Regions from separate parts of the Homo sapiens genome. Here all the other regions are reported to be linked to region 3. The links are microRNA targets in miRTarBase. Many come from high-throughput screens and were not tested one by one. Region 3 holds a microRNA gene; each other region holds the end of a gene's coding sequence.
What was found. The annotated mature microRNA hsa-miR-4676-5p reads GAGCCAGUGGUGAGACAGUGA and lies in region 3 at 1,460-1,480, shown strand. An mRNA with a match to its seed (bases 2 to 7 or 8) in the 3' UTR can be bound and repressed. Matches are read on the target gene's strand: a 7mer-m8 pairs with bases 2 to 8, a 7mer-A1 pairs with bases 2 to 7 and ends in A, and an 8mer does both.

Region 1: miRTarBase lists SNRNP48 as a target of hsa-miR-4676-5p. Seed matches in the 3' UTR shown: 7mer-m8 at 609-615 and 7mer-A1 at 490-496.
Region 2: the mRNA of FAM118A is a reported target of hsa-miR-4676-5p. The part of its 3' UTR that is shown has no 7-base or 8-base seed match.
Region 4: the mRNA of MKLN1 is a reported target of hsa-miR-4676-5p. Seed matches in the 3' UTR shown: 7mer-A1 at 1,942-1,948 and 7mer-A1 at 3,226-3,232.

What each region holds. Positions count from the first base shown.
Region 1 is chr6:7,608,444-7,611,690 of GRCh38, reverse strand. SNRNP48 (small nuclear ribonucleoprotein U11/U12 subunit 48) reads right to left here. Exons shown (of 9, transcript NM_152551.4): 9 at 1-2,866. The coding sequence ends at 2,818. Among named protein-coding and RNA genes, the nearest start is that of SNRNP48, 20 kb to the right of the region's middle.
Region 2 is chr22:45,339,815-45,343,061 of GRCh38, forward strand. It overlaps FAM118A (family with sequence similarity 118 member A), which reads left to right. Exons shown (of 9, transcript NM_017911.4): 9 at 572-2,141. The coding sequence ends at 591. Among named protein-coding and RNA genes, the nearest start is that of FAM118A, 32 kb to the left of the region's middle.
Region 3 is chr10:72,719,579-72,722,578 of GRCh38, forward strand. It overlaps MIR4676 (microRNA 4676), which reads left to right and starts at 1,451; the gene lies at 1,451-1,522. All of the region lies in intron 1 of MCU (mitochondrial calcium uniporter), which reads left to right.
Region 4 is chr7:131,487,032-131,490,278 of GRCh38, forward strand. It overlaps MKLN1 (muskelin 1), which reads left to right. Exons shown (of 18, transcript NM_013255.5): 18 at 576-3,247. The coding sequence ends at 697. Among named protein-coding and RNA genes, the nearest start is that of PODXL, 68 kb to the right of the region's middle.

The DNA.
Region 1 (3,247 bases), not on the chromosome of region 3:
TGTAGCATACACAGGTAATTAGAAAATATTCTCAATGCATTTAAGATATTTTCACTAAAGGGTTTGAGATTATCCAATTAGCTGTACTCGAAAGTGGCAAATACTTGAAGATCATTGATTTAATTTAAAATTCTGAGTGCTGAGTTCAGTTTCCTACTGAATATAACCAGTGCCCTGGGCTCTGCATGGCAGTTGACTTGCCAATATCTCAATTAAAGTGACTAGGCACAGTGGCTCACACTTGTAATCCCAGCACTTTAGGAGGCCGAGGCCAGGAGCTTGAGACCAGCTGGAGAACATAGTGAGATCCTGTCTCTACAAAAAAATTTAAAAATACATACTTTTTAGACAGGTGTGGTAGATCACACCTGGTGCCTGGTGGCTCCCAGCATTTTGGGAGGCTGAGGACAGGAGGATCATCTGAGCCCAGGAGTTCAAGACCAGCCTAGGCAACAGAGCAAGACTCCATCTCTAAAAAACTAAAAACATTAGCCAGGTGTAGTGGCACACACCTATAGTTGCAGCTACATGGGAGGCCAGGGCAAGAGGATCGCCTGAGCCTAGGAGTTTGAGGCTGCAGTGAGCTACAGACTGCACCACTGCACTCCAGCCAGTAGATTAGAAATGTTTGTGAGAAGGTACCTTAATGGATGGGCAAGATGGACAGCAGCTATAGTAATTATTCATAGCAGCACTCTAGAAATAAAAACTAGATCTTATGTGGCAGGGCTGTGAAAATGCTTTTGTCAAAATTTAAAATTACAGATTAACACCTATGAGGCTGCAGGCACAGGGGTCACGCTGATGAAGGCATAAACCCTGCTCTCAAGTAGCTCACATCCAGTGAAAGGCTCAAACCACAAACAGGGAAGTACGTGAGATTAATTCGTTCAAGGATCAAACAAATGCCTCTTTTCACCCGATGCCACATTTCATTAAATAGTTTGTAGCAGTGATACTATAAAATGTGAGCTTTAAAGAACTCTGGTAACATTTTCAATCTCTTCCTTTCTCCGTACTCTTCTATTTCCCCCCAATTTCTCCAATCCACTCCTAATTTTCACTTGTATCTTTCTTCTACAAAAAACCTAAATATGCCAATTTTACTCTTCTTCCTTCCAGTTAGTAAAATCAATGAAATCACAATTTGAAACAAAATTATAAGTTGTCACACAATATGAAAAATATGAAATTCCTGATGATTCAAGTAGTTTTGATCTATAAAAGCAGCAATTTCATGATTCATCAGTCACTCCCAAGTCCTTGCTTTTATAATTTTTAAATGTGGATTTTATATATTTAGAAATTAAGTACAATGGCAGCAATATGACTATATATTGGCAAGTAACCTGGTGATTTCCAATTTATAAATCTGAGAGCTGTTTCCCATACCTGAAGCCTAACAGCCAATCTGATCCAAATCCAATCTTTCTGTCACTGTCAGCTACTTATTAAAATAATAAGATTTCATTTCTACTTGGAAACAAAATCTTTAACCTGAGTTTCCAGTATTCAAAATATTGCTATTTAGATGTCGGATGCTTAACATTTCATGCCAAAGTCTCACGTGAATGATCTGACATAAGATAGAACATACTACTCAGCAACAAAAAAAATGCACAACTGACACACAGGGATCAATCTCAAAAATCTGCAGAGAGGAAGAAGGCAAAGTACATACTACAGTATTCTATTTACATGAATTCTACAATGGATAGATCTAATCGGTAACCAAAAGCAAATCTGTGGCTGCCTAGGGCTAGGGGTAGAGGAATTGATTGGGAAAGGGGGTATGAGAATTTTGGGGGCAATGAAAATATTTGTATCTTGATCGTGATAGTGGCTGCACAGAGGTATGAATCTGTCAAAACCCAATAAAATACACACGTAAAAAGGGTGCAATAAATCTAAGTAAATAGTACCTCAATTCAGTTGATTTACAAAACACAACATGACAGTATATTTTAAATTAAATGAAACATTAAGACCTTATTTTTTAAAAAAATTAATGTTATGGATAAAGCTAAAGTTCCCTCTGACCACCCTCCCAATCCTGATTTGCACCCCTAATCTCTCATCTATACCTCCTACTCGCTGTTAGAACTTTGGTATGGATTCCTCTGAACCTTTAAAAATAGATTTACGTACATTATATAGCCATAGAGAATGCATAGTATTGTTTTGTACATATATATAATTTGTATATAACTTTCTACAACTTGCTATTTTCACTGAGCATTATGTTTTTGAGACCAATCCAGGTTAATATGGATCTAGATTATTTCTTTTAACTCCAATACAATAATCTATCCTATGACTACATCATATTTTAATTAGGCCATTCCTCTTCAATATTTAGATTGTTTTTCCCTACTACAATTCACCAGTGTAGTGGTAAACAGTAGTCACCACTGGGGTGAGGACAGAACCGCAGGTGGTGTTCTAAGGGTTATTAGCCTTATTTATAAGATGTAGTTATAAGATGAGAATGTATTCATGTTTAATTTACATATGATAAATATTGACTTAAAGAATTTTGAGATACATATATTAGCAAAACGAACAAAACAACATCAGTTATAGGAAGCAAATCATCTAATAAAATATAAGGAAAACAAAGTTGTAGGGCCTAATAGTGTACTCATGGTTTGAAGCATATTTACTGGAAAATAATAAGCACTAAACAGATCATAAAAAAAATAATAAGCACTAAACAGATCATAAAAACATTCTCCTATGCAAAGGAATTCCAATTAATATATCTGTATATTGGTTATCATGGCGTAAGCATAATTAATATAGGTACAAGTACTTCATTTATATTTTTTGCTTTCTTCTTTTATGACTATGGTGTCTTTCCCCATCCCTGAAATAAAAGAGGTATAAAAAAATGGTTATAAATGATGGACATTTTAATATCAGAGCTTTAAAATAATTCAACAGTAATACACCACTTTCAACAGTAATATGCTACTTTAACATTCTATTTGAAAAGAATTTTCTGGTTATCATTTACATATACTCAAAGTTAATTTTAAAGCAGAATTTCAAAGCGTAATTAAAAAAAAATCACTTTGATTATTCCTATTTCAGTTTCGTCTCTTAGTTTTTTTATTTGTTTGTTTCTGTTTTTTTGAGATGGAGTTTCACTCTTGTTGCCCAGGCTGGAGCGCAAATGGCACGATCTTGGCTCACTGCAACCTTCGCCTCCCGGATTCAAGCGATTCCTGCCTCAGCCTCCCAAGCA
Region 2 (3,247 bases), not on the chromosome of region 3:
GGCCTACTGCCTGGTAGACCTTGCTGTGGAGCATTGGGCAGGGGTTTTCTTCAATACCTGTGAGATCTGTGCTCCTAGACGCCATCACCTGCACCTGCAGCCCCGGCTCTCCCCACCCAGTCATGTCTCCTTAGGGCGAAGCTCCTGGCCTCTGTTGTACAGAAAGCCCTGGCCTGTCCTGCATGTGGGTGAGAGAAGCCAAGCCTGGGGATCCCAGAGGAATCGACAGGCTTATTCTTCTCCATACCTCCAACAGGCTCTCACTGTATGTTTGTTGAAATTGCCCCATCCTCAGTCCACTAAGAAATAAAAGAGCATCCATGTTCATGGATTGAGATTCCCACAGATCGTTGCAAATGTAATGTCATCATTTGCTTGATCCCCTGATAGTACTGATAATTACACAAGGTCATTTCCAGACAGTGGCTACTGTTTCCATTGTGGAGGGGTTTTCAAAGTCTTCCGTACATAAGAACAATTGTAAAGCAGTTTCTGAAATAGAAATCTATTGCAAATAACTTCTTTTAGCTGGACTTTAACCCTTGGGCATTTCATTCTTTTATTTAAACAGATGATGCTGGAGGGTCTTGAAATCTTTACAGTAAAACCTGCAACTTGAAAACTAGCCTTCTGTAACCACAGTGCCCAAACGAAGAGGAATGTATGGAGAACTCCACGTGGATCTCTGATTGCGAAACCGTCACATACACCAAGAGAGCCACATGGGCATGTGGCCCTCAAGGCTGGGTGAGAGGGCTCCCCTGTGTGTTGAACTATGCAGGAGGGTGACGCGGACACATTTCAGGTGGACTTTGCAAGGACTGATGGATAGCTACCTCAGGGACCAGAATCCGTGGGAAGGGATGGACCTGGTGTTCCCGTTCCCATCTGACAGGCTCTCTTTTGTCAAGGTGGTATTTTTCGTAATAAAAGGGGAAGAGTAAAGACTGTCCAAGCAACAGTAGCTGCCAAAGAGAAAATACGAAATAGACACTTTTTTTTTTTGAGTCAGAGTCTCACTCTGTCACCCAGGACAGAGTGCAGTGGTACGATCTCAAGCTCACTGCAGCCACCACCGCCTGGGCTCAAGTGATTCTCCTGCCTCAGCCTCCCGAGTAGCTGGGATTACAGGCGTCCACCACCATGCCCAGCTAATTTTTTTATTTTTAGTAGAGTTGGAGTTTCACCATGTTGGCCAGGATGGTCTCGAACTCTTGACCTCAGGTGATCCACCCGCCTTGGCCTCCCAAAGTGCTAGGATTACAGGCATGAGCCACTGCGCCCAGCAAAATAAACACATTTTATAATTTGTATGTGGAAACATGTTACTATAGAAAGCATTTTAAAGGTACGTTTTAAAGGTCCACTGTTAAATAGTAAAGAATGAATCCGCTAGCGAAAATGTTTTTAGGGAGAACAGCTGGATCAAAAGGGCTTCTTTGGAATTAGGTTGTTTTAGTAACTTCTGTTCCAAAGAAACACAGGTCTGATATTGCTAAGAACTGAAATCGGAGGAGCCAGAGGCCCTTTTCAGTCCAGGCCAACATTGTGCACGGCCACTGTGGGACTGACAACCGGGATAGCTCAAGTTCGAGAGACCAGGTTTCAAACATTATAAGTTCCAGGCTTTGCAAGTCTTTATTCTCTGGGGTAATATCCAGTCTTTCTGTTATTGTCTCTTAAAATTCTCTTCCATGGCCCACATTAAGGGAGTTTGCAGAGAGTGAGGGAGGCAAAACTTGAAAAGGGCCTGCAACACTTTAAACCTTCTCAGGTTCACCCACATGAAACGGCTGTGCTGAGTGTGCTGCCGGTGCCCGGGGAGCTTCTCTGACTGTGACCCGGCAGAGGCTTCTGTGGCGGTGCATGAGCGGCCCTACAGTGGAGGGTTCTCTTTGGAAACAAACAGCCCTGCTTGGTTTCAGTTTGAGGCCACTTATCTTCAATGTGACATTTCTTGCCAAGCCCTGTGACACTCCCCATTGATGACTCCCATAGGTACAGATAAAGTTAAGAACAGGAAACAGAAGGGTAGGATGCATAGGGAGGGAGAGAAGCCCTGAAAACTTTTTTTTTCTTTTTGAAGCATGGAAAACAAATCTTTTATGCCACTCCAGCCATAAATAAAATTTTAACTTCAACCCTGTGTGCTCAGTGTTTCTTTAGTTATGCCAAGGCTTGCTAGAATGTTATTTAGTGAGAATTTTTAGCTTGAGTTGCCACCCAACTGTGAAATCAACTAAATGATTACTTGAATGTATTTAAATGTTTTAAAAAGCAAACATTATAAATTTTTCTTTAATGTCATTTAGTAAGTGCAGTCAGGGAATATCTGAATCTAAGAGCTGGCCAGACACAGGGTATAGCAGAATTACAAGCATAGAGGATGCTATGCAGTAGGATGTAAAGCTCATTACAGCCCATTTTTAAGAAAAGCTTTGTGTGCTCTGCTGGAGGACACAGCCATGTTGCTGCACCACATGGATGTATCTAGTCAGTTCTGTTGTATGCTCGTTGTAGAATGTAAAGTTTATTCCAATCCGATTGATAGATTAAAGGCAATTCCAGCATAGTGCACTTGCTTGTGTATAGTTTAGTCCGTGAGAAACATCACATCAGGAGGTAACAAAGTTGGCCCTGCTGTTTACTGCCTCAAGCTAGAGTAGCTATTACATTTTAAAATGGTTATATTTTAAGACAGGGCAGGTAGCTCAAACCTGTAATCCCAGCACTTTGGGAGGCTGAGGGGGGCGGATCACTTGAGGCCAGGAGTTTGAGACCAGCCTGGCCAACATGGTGAAACCCTGTCTCTACTAAAAATACAAAAATTAGCCTGGCGTGGTGGCGTGTGCCTGTAATCCCAGCTACTTGGGAGACTGAGGCAGGAGAATCACTTGAACCAAGGAGGCAGAGGTTGCAGTGAACCAAGATTGCACCACTGCACTCCAGCCTGGGCGACAGAGGGAATTCCATCTAAAAAAAAATAAAAATAAAATGGTTACATTTTAAATAGTTATACAAGTACCTGCTAAGAACCTCCTTACTATCTCAACAAAGCCTGAATATGTGCTGTGGCCCTTAAATTAGGTTACTGGGCATGCTCTGTTATATCAGAAATGACTGAACTTGGTGGGATCACTGACAGTCTATAAGTCAAAGTTATGAAAGAGAACAGCCAAGCGCGGTGGCTCACGCCTGTAATCCCAGCACTTTGAGAGGCTGAGACGGGTGGATCACTTAAGGCCAG
Region 3 (3,000 bases):
GTGTGTATTTTACATGTTCTTTTGGCTTTAAGGTATCACTTAACATAACCAGAATGTAGAATTTTCTTCCCAAACAGAGCTCTTTTTGTGATTTTTCTTATTGTCACTTTTGGTTTTTCCAGTGACTTGAGGATAAATCACCTCAGGCATTTATCCTTTATATTACAAACATACAATTATATTCTCTTAGTTATTTTAAAATATACAATTAAATTATTATTGGCTATAGTCACCCTGTTGTGCTATACAATTCTAGGTCTTATTCATTCTTTTAATTATTTTGTGCCCATTAACCATTGCCACTTCCCAATCATTTTTATTGATTGATTAGTTGATTGATTGAGATGGGAGTCTTGCCGTGTGGCACAGGCTGGTCTTGAGCTCCTGGCCTCAAGTGACCCTCCCACTTCAGCCTCCTGAGTAACTGGGACTGATTACAGGTGCAAAATACTACGCCCATCTAATTAAATTTTTTTTTTTGGAGAGACAAGGTCTCACTAGGTTGCCCAGCTGGTCTTGCACTCCTAGCCTCAAGCAATCCTTCCACTATGGCCTGGGATTACAGGCATGAGTCACTGTGCCTGGCCAATAATGTTTCTGATAACCAGTGACTGCTTACTAACTTTCAGGTTGTGTGACATGCCATACATACATGATTTTATTTCATTTATTCTGTGCACCAGTCCTATAAAGTAGGTACTATAATTTCTACTGCTGAAGAAATAAAGACAGGAAGGTTCTATGTAACTTGCTCAAGCTAGTAAGTGATGGAATTAGGAATTCAGGTATATGTCTGCATACTTCCCAGTTGTAACCTCTGTCTCCCCATGCTCCTGAATGCCATGAATAGATTACTCCTTAATCACCAAGTGCATTCCCACCTTTTTCTTAGCCCTTTCACTTTGCAGATCCACTGACTATTAGGCCCTGACTTGTTCCGTTTGTTCCTTTCTCATCATCTCACTCTATCCATCCTTCAAGGCACAGCTCAAGTCCTATCTGTTCAGTGACTTCTTCCTTCTCCTTTCCAATTTATAGAATACTCCTTAGCCCTGCCACACATTTTATACTTCCATTGTGTTGAATCTATCTTTTTATATACGGATGCTTTAGTTTAAACTTCAGATTGTAACCTCCTTGAGGAAAGGGCTTGGATTACAGATTTTACTTGTATTCTCTGCAGTGTCTTATAATAGATGTTCAACAAATGTATATGTTGATCAATTGAAATGATAATAGAACCCTTAATAGCTGAAGATATGTAACGTGCATCTAAGACTCCTGGTTATTTGAGCTTCTTGAAGTACTTTATACATCCAACTAACAGTCTTAATTCAGAACCAGGAATGACATGTTTAGGTTAGAGTTAGATACTGATTTCTAGACAGGAAGCTTAGTAATTGTTGCTACATACTGATCCAAGTAAGAATAGTTCTTTATATCCAGAGCCTGAATGAAAGAGCCAGTGGTGAGACAGTGAGTTGATTACTTCTCACTGTTTCACCACTGGCTCTTTGGTTCATGCTAACAATGTATCTCACCTAGATTATATTAACAGCTTTCTAATTAGTCTCCCTGCTTTTGTTCTTTCTTACCTCTGGTCGTAATTCAGCAGTGGGAATGATGACATCAGGCAGAAGGAGACTTATTCAGTAGCTTCTGATCTCACTCAGTAAAAGACAAAGTTCTTCAAGGGGCCTACAGGTAGTGACAATAAACTGGCTCTCTGGAGGGGGAAAAGGTTCTGATTTGTAGCATTTGCCTGTTTTACTGGTATAATTACTCCCACTCTGGCTGATTCAAAGTTCTAGAATGTACAGCAATCTGCTCCCCAGTCAATATCGGCTTCAGCACATCACTGTTGAACATTTGGCTCCCCGTCTGACTCCCATCTGCTGCCACTTTCCCTCTTGCCCACTCCATTTTGTGATACTGACCTCCTTGCTATTCCTCAAACATGCTGAACATGCACCTACCTCATAGGATTTTTGCACTGCAGTTTTCTATCATTAGAATGCTTTTCTCCTGAATATATACAGGTTTTCTTATTTCTTTTCCCTCTTGAGTCTCTGCTGAAATATTATATTCTCAGTAAGGTCTTCCATGATCTCCTTGCATGAAAATTTTATTTTATTGGTTGTTCTGAGATGATTTTAATATACACTACAGTGTTTTTGTAGTCATCTAGTGCCTTGCTGTAGTGATGCATTACTGCTATTTCTAGGCAATGTCATCTGTGGGTGGGCATAATGGTTATATTTGCTGTTGAGACTTAAAAAGAAGCATTTCATTTTGTTTGAAACGAAAATATCTGTGATACATATAAACAAATCAGTTTGGGCCTCTTATTGGTAATTGCAACTTGAATTACTATCCACTTAGGCTCCTTATGGGGAATGCAACAATATTTATGGTTAAGTGTACATTTGATAGTATATTGTTCTCACAGTAACATCATTGTGGGTTTGAAGATCTGTGCTAAGTTATGAAACAATGGAATTTATACACTTTATTTGAAGATAAATTGGGTTTATAGGGAATTCTTGGTATAAATATTAACGTGTAGATTAGTATAACATACTGTTTATTATAATTAGAAAAAGCTGTGGGCACTTAAATCCCAGCTACTTGGGAGGCTGAGGCAGGAGAATCACTTGAACCCGGGAGGCAGAGATTGCAGTGAGCGGAGATTGCACCTTTGCACTCCAGCCTGGGCAACAAGAGTGAAACTCCATCTCAAAAAAAAAAAAAAAAAAAAAAAAAAAGGTACATGACTTCTTATGAACTAGATGCCACCTTTTCCCCTTAACCTCAGCTGTTTCTTTTTCTTTTCTGTTTTATTAAGGAACTTTAACCTCCCGCTTGACTTAGTCTAGGCATAGCTAATATTACAGTGAGGTAACAAGATTGAGTTGTAGTTATTGGCACTTTTTTCTTTCTTTCTTTTTTTTTTTTTAACATGCAACTATTTTTACAAGCAAAATTCTAGTGTAACCAGAG
Region 4 (3,247 bases), not on the chromosome of region 3:
TTGTACATGTATCTCCCTCAGTCGTCTCTGTTACCACTCAGTTCCCTGAGACTACTTCCAGCTGTCTCAGAGACATTAATGATTTTAGACTAATTTCTAAAGACCTCTTTCATTTTGATTTTATTATATTTTTGTTACTAAAAAACTTTTTTAGTGGTTCAGAAGCATTAACAAGTCAGAAAAGACAAGTGGAATTTCCTCAGTGGACCAGCAGAGAAAAGACCTAATAAGGAAAAAAAGAGAGATCAGTATTATTTGTAACTAAAGTGCCAGTCCTTCTGCTAGACGCTTTTCATGTAACTACATTTAATCTGCACAATAACTGTATGAAGTAAACAGGATTATCACATACTTACAGCTGAGGAAGCAAAGTCTGAAAGCCAGAAAGTCTGACTAATTTATCTAAGATCACACCACAGCCAGGTAGTAGAACTGGGGTCAGATCAGTAGTGTCTGCCTGGTTTTGAAGCCTGATTTGATTTCTCCATTATAAAATACATTGCTGCTGGTCTCAACTAGTTTTTCTGTTACATGTTTTAAACACAATGGATGTTTCTTTGTATCTTCTTCACCAGGCTTTTCTGATGTGGATCACACCTATGCTCAAAGAACTCAGCTCTTTGACACCTTAGTAAATTTCTTTCCTGACAGCATGACTCCTCCTAAAGGCAACCTGGTAGACCTCATCACACTGTAACTGAAGAGTCACTGGACACAGAAATGGAAAACAGGAGTCGATTTTCCGTCTTTTGGATTGCAGCTCCACTGACTGACAGTAAAGCTGCAGTGATTGAGGACTGCACCAGAGTTCTGAAGGGATCTTAACCATCACAAGTTTTTACCCTCTTCCTTCATGCCTGACCTCAACCCCGCTCTCCTCATCCTATTCCTAAATTAGGCTAATAAAGTGAAATTGGTATACTTTCCAGTTAAATATATATATATATATATTTTTTCTTACTTTATCTTTTAAGAATTAATGAGTATAAAAGAAAAATTAGGCAGTTTACCCTTTTCAGATTTTTATTTCTTTTTTTTTTAATTGGGGGAAATAAGCACTATTAACAGATTCAGCACTACAAGTATTTTGAATGTTGTTGCTGTTGGTCATTTGGCCTGCCTTTTCCCTTCCTATTTCACTTTGCCTCCCATCACACAACTGCGTGTAAATGGTGTCACTTGTTCACCTCTTTACTTCATTCTTAACAAGTGTATAGTTCTCTAGGACAGTTGATGTATGTTAAGGTGATATCTGTGTCTGTATTGACTTGTCTTGTGTTACATTAAACAGTAGGCAGAACTGAGGTCTCAAGTTTGCACTCTTGGCCATAGAACTAAAAATGAAACCTGAGATTGACCCAAGCACCTATCTGAGATTGGTATATAATATTTCTATAATGATATATTTTATAGTAGATATTACAATAGCATCTGACTTTGAGTCACAGAAACCTTAAACTGAGGAGACAATAGTTCAGAACCTTTTTAAGAGCCATTCTAAAAGTGACCAGCAGGAGGGATCTAGTAGTGAATAATATCTTAATAGCAATTTTAGGAGAAAATGACTCTTTCGTCCAGAAGAGCTCTGCAGAACCAGGGCTCCCGTTTATCTTGTGCTATCTCTGTAGTATTTTCATTTGAGAGAGGAGGCTGAGTTTCCAGAGCTTTGCTTTCATTTATTTTTATACACATTGTCTCTCTATATCTGCTTGTGGATATTGTTATTTTGAAGAGAAATGGTTTGTGGTTGTCCAGTGGTATACAACTGACAGGCATTTCATTAAGCACATAGACCAGACTTTGTGAATGGTTCAGATATTTTTTCATTAAAAAACAAGGTATGGCAGATGGACTTTTCCATGGGTCAAATTTTTTGTGTGAGAGATAGAGGTACATGTCTTCTGATGATGTGCTGTGGAATGCAATGTGGGAAACCTACATCTGGCTAGTGCTTACATTTGCTCAAAAAGCATGTTGTATGAAGCTGACTGCCACCATGCTAAAGCAGATTCATATTAAGAAGTGTCGGTCGATCCAGTGGCTCTTAAGAGTGAATAGCTTTATGGAATCAAGTATGTCCCTGAGTAGCAAGATTAGGCCTCACCAAAGAAGAAATTAACCTGCACTTTCAAAAAGTACCATGTATAGGAATGAAACATTGAGGTCCCACTTTATTCTGTCTTTAGTACATGGTTTTACTTATTTTGGGGATGGATAGAAATATATTTTTGCTAGTTCTAGGCTTGAATCATGGGCTCCTTGGCTTTCCTAGCATCCCAAAGCAGTCAACAGTGATTTCTTAAGCAATTTGATCTGTACCTTTACTTGTGAAAGGTATGCTATATAATTCAGCAAGTACCAACTTGTGTAGCTGCAGAATAACCAAGTGGCTATCCAGTCAAGTAAATACAGTTTGCTTACATACTTCAACAGTTTCATAAAACGATTCCCCTGAGTGACACAAGAACATAAAATGTTAATATCACTAATATAGCCTGTTAAATCTTTTGTGGAGACAGGTGCAAATCAGAAGATTGACAAGGAAGAACTTGAGCTTGCTAAATAAGACTTCCTAAATTTAAAAGCTCTAGTTTTGCTTAGTGTGAATTCTGGCACTTTAAAAAGATTAAGCAAGTGAAATTCTGCTGCCCTCCACCATTTATTTTTACAGTGCTTTGTAATTTTTTTCATCAGTTCCTTAAATGTTATTTGGAGGAAACTAAGTTCTTGACCTCAGTAATTTTATTTTTGTTTTTCCCTAAATGTTTCCCTACTAGTCTTTTTGGAAAACATGTTTGTTTTAATTTCATCTTCCCTCACTTTATTTAGGTAGAATTTTTCCCCCTTCATTTCTGAAATTTTTTGCTCACCGCCATGTTTAAATGGGGTTGAATCATAGCGAGCCATTTGCTCTTGCCAAAGTGAGATAGATGTACTGAGGAGATAATTGAAAAGTCAGACTCTGTACTGTGGGGCTTTAATCGGAGCACTGCTGGAAATGATTGCAGAGAATGTAGTGCTTCATATATCCATGACCAAGATTGACATGTTGCTCACAACATGTCACAATTTAGTGAGGAGCTACATGTATTTCCAAGAATTCCAGCATAGATTATAATTTAAATAATCGAATTTGGTATTTAGGTACATTGTTTATATAGCCAAGTGTATATGCTTTACTACCTAACAATTATTCTAGCCTAGGTGAATCCCTAATTGAAACACCTGGCTAACACTTTAGACACAT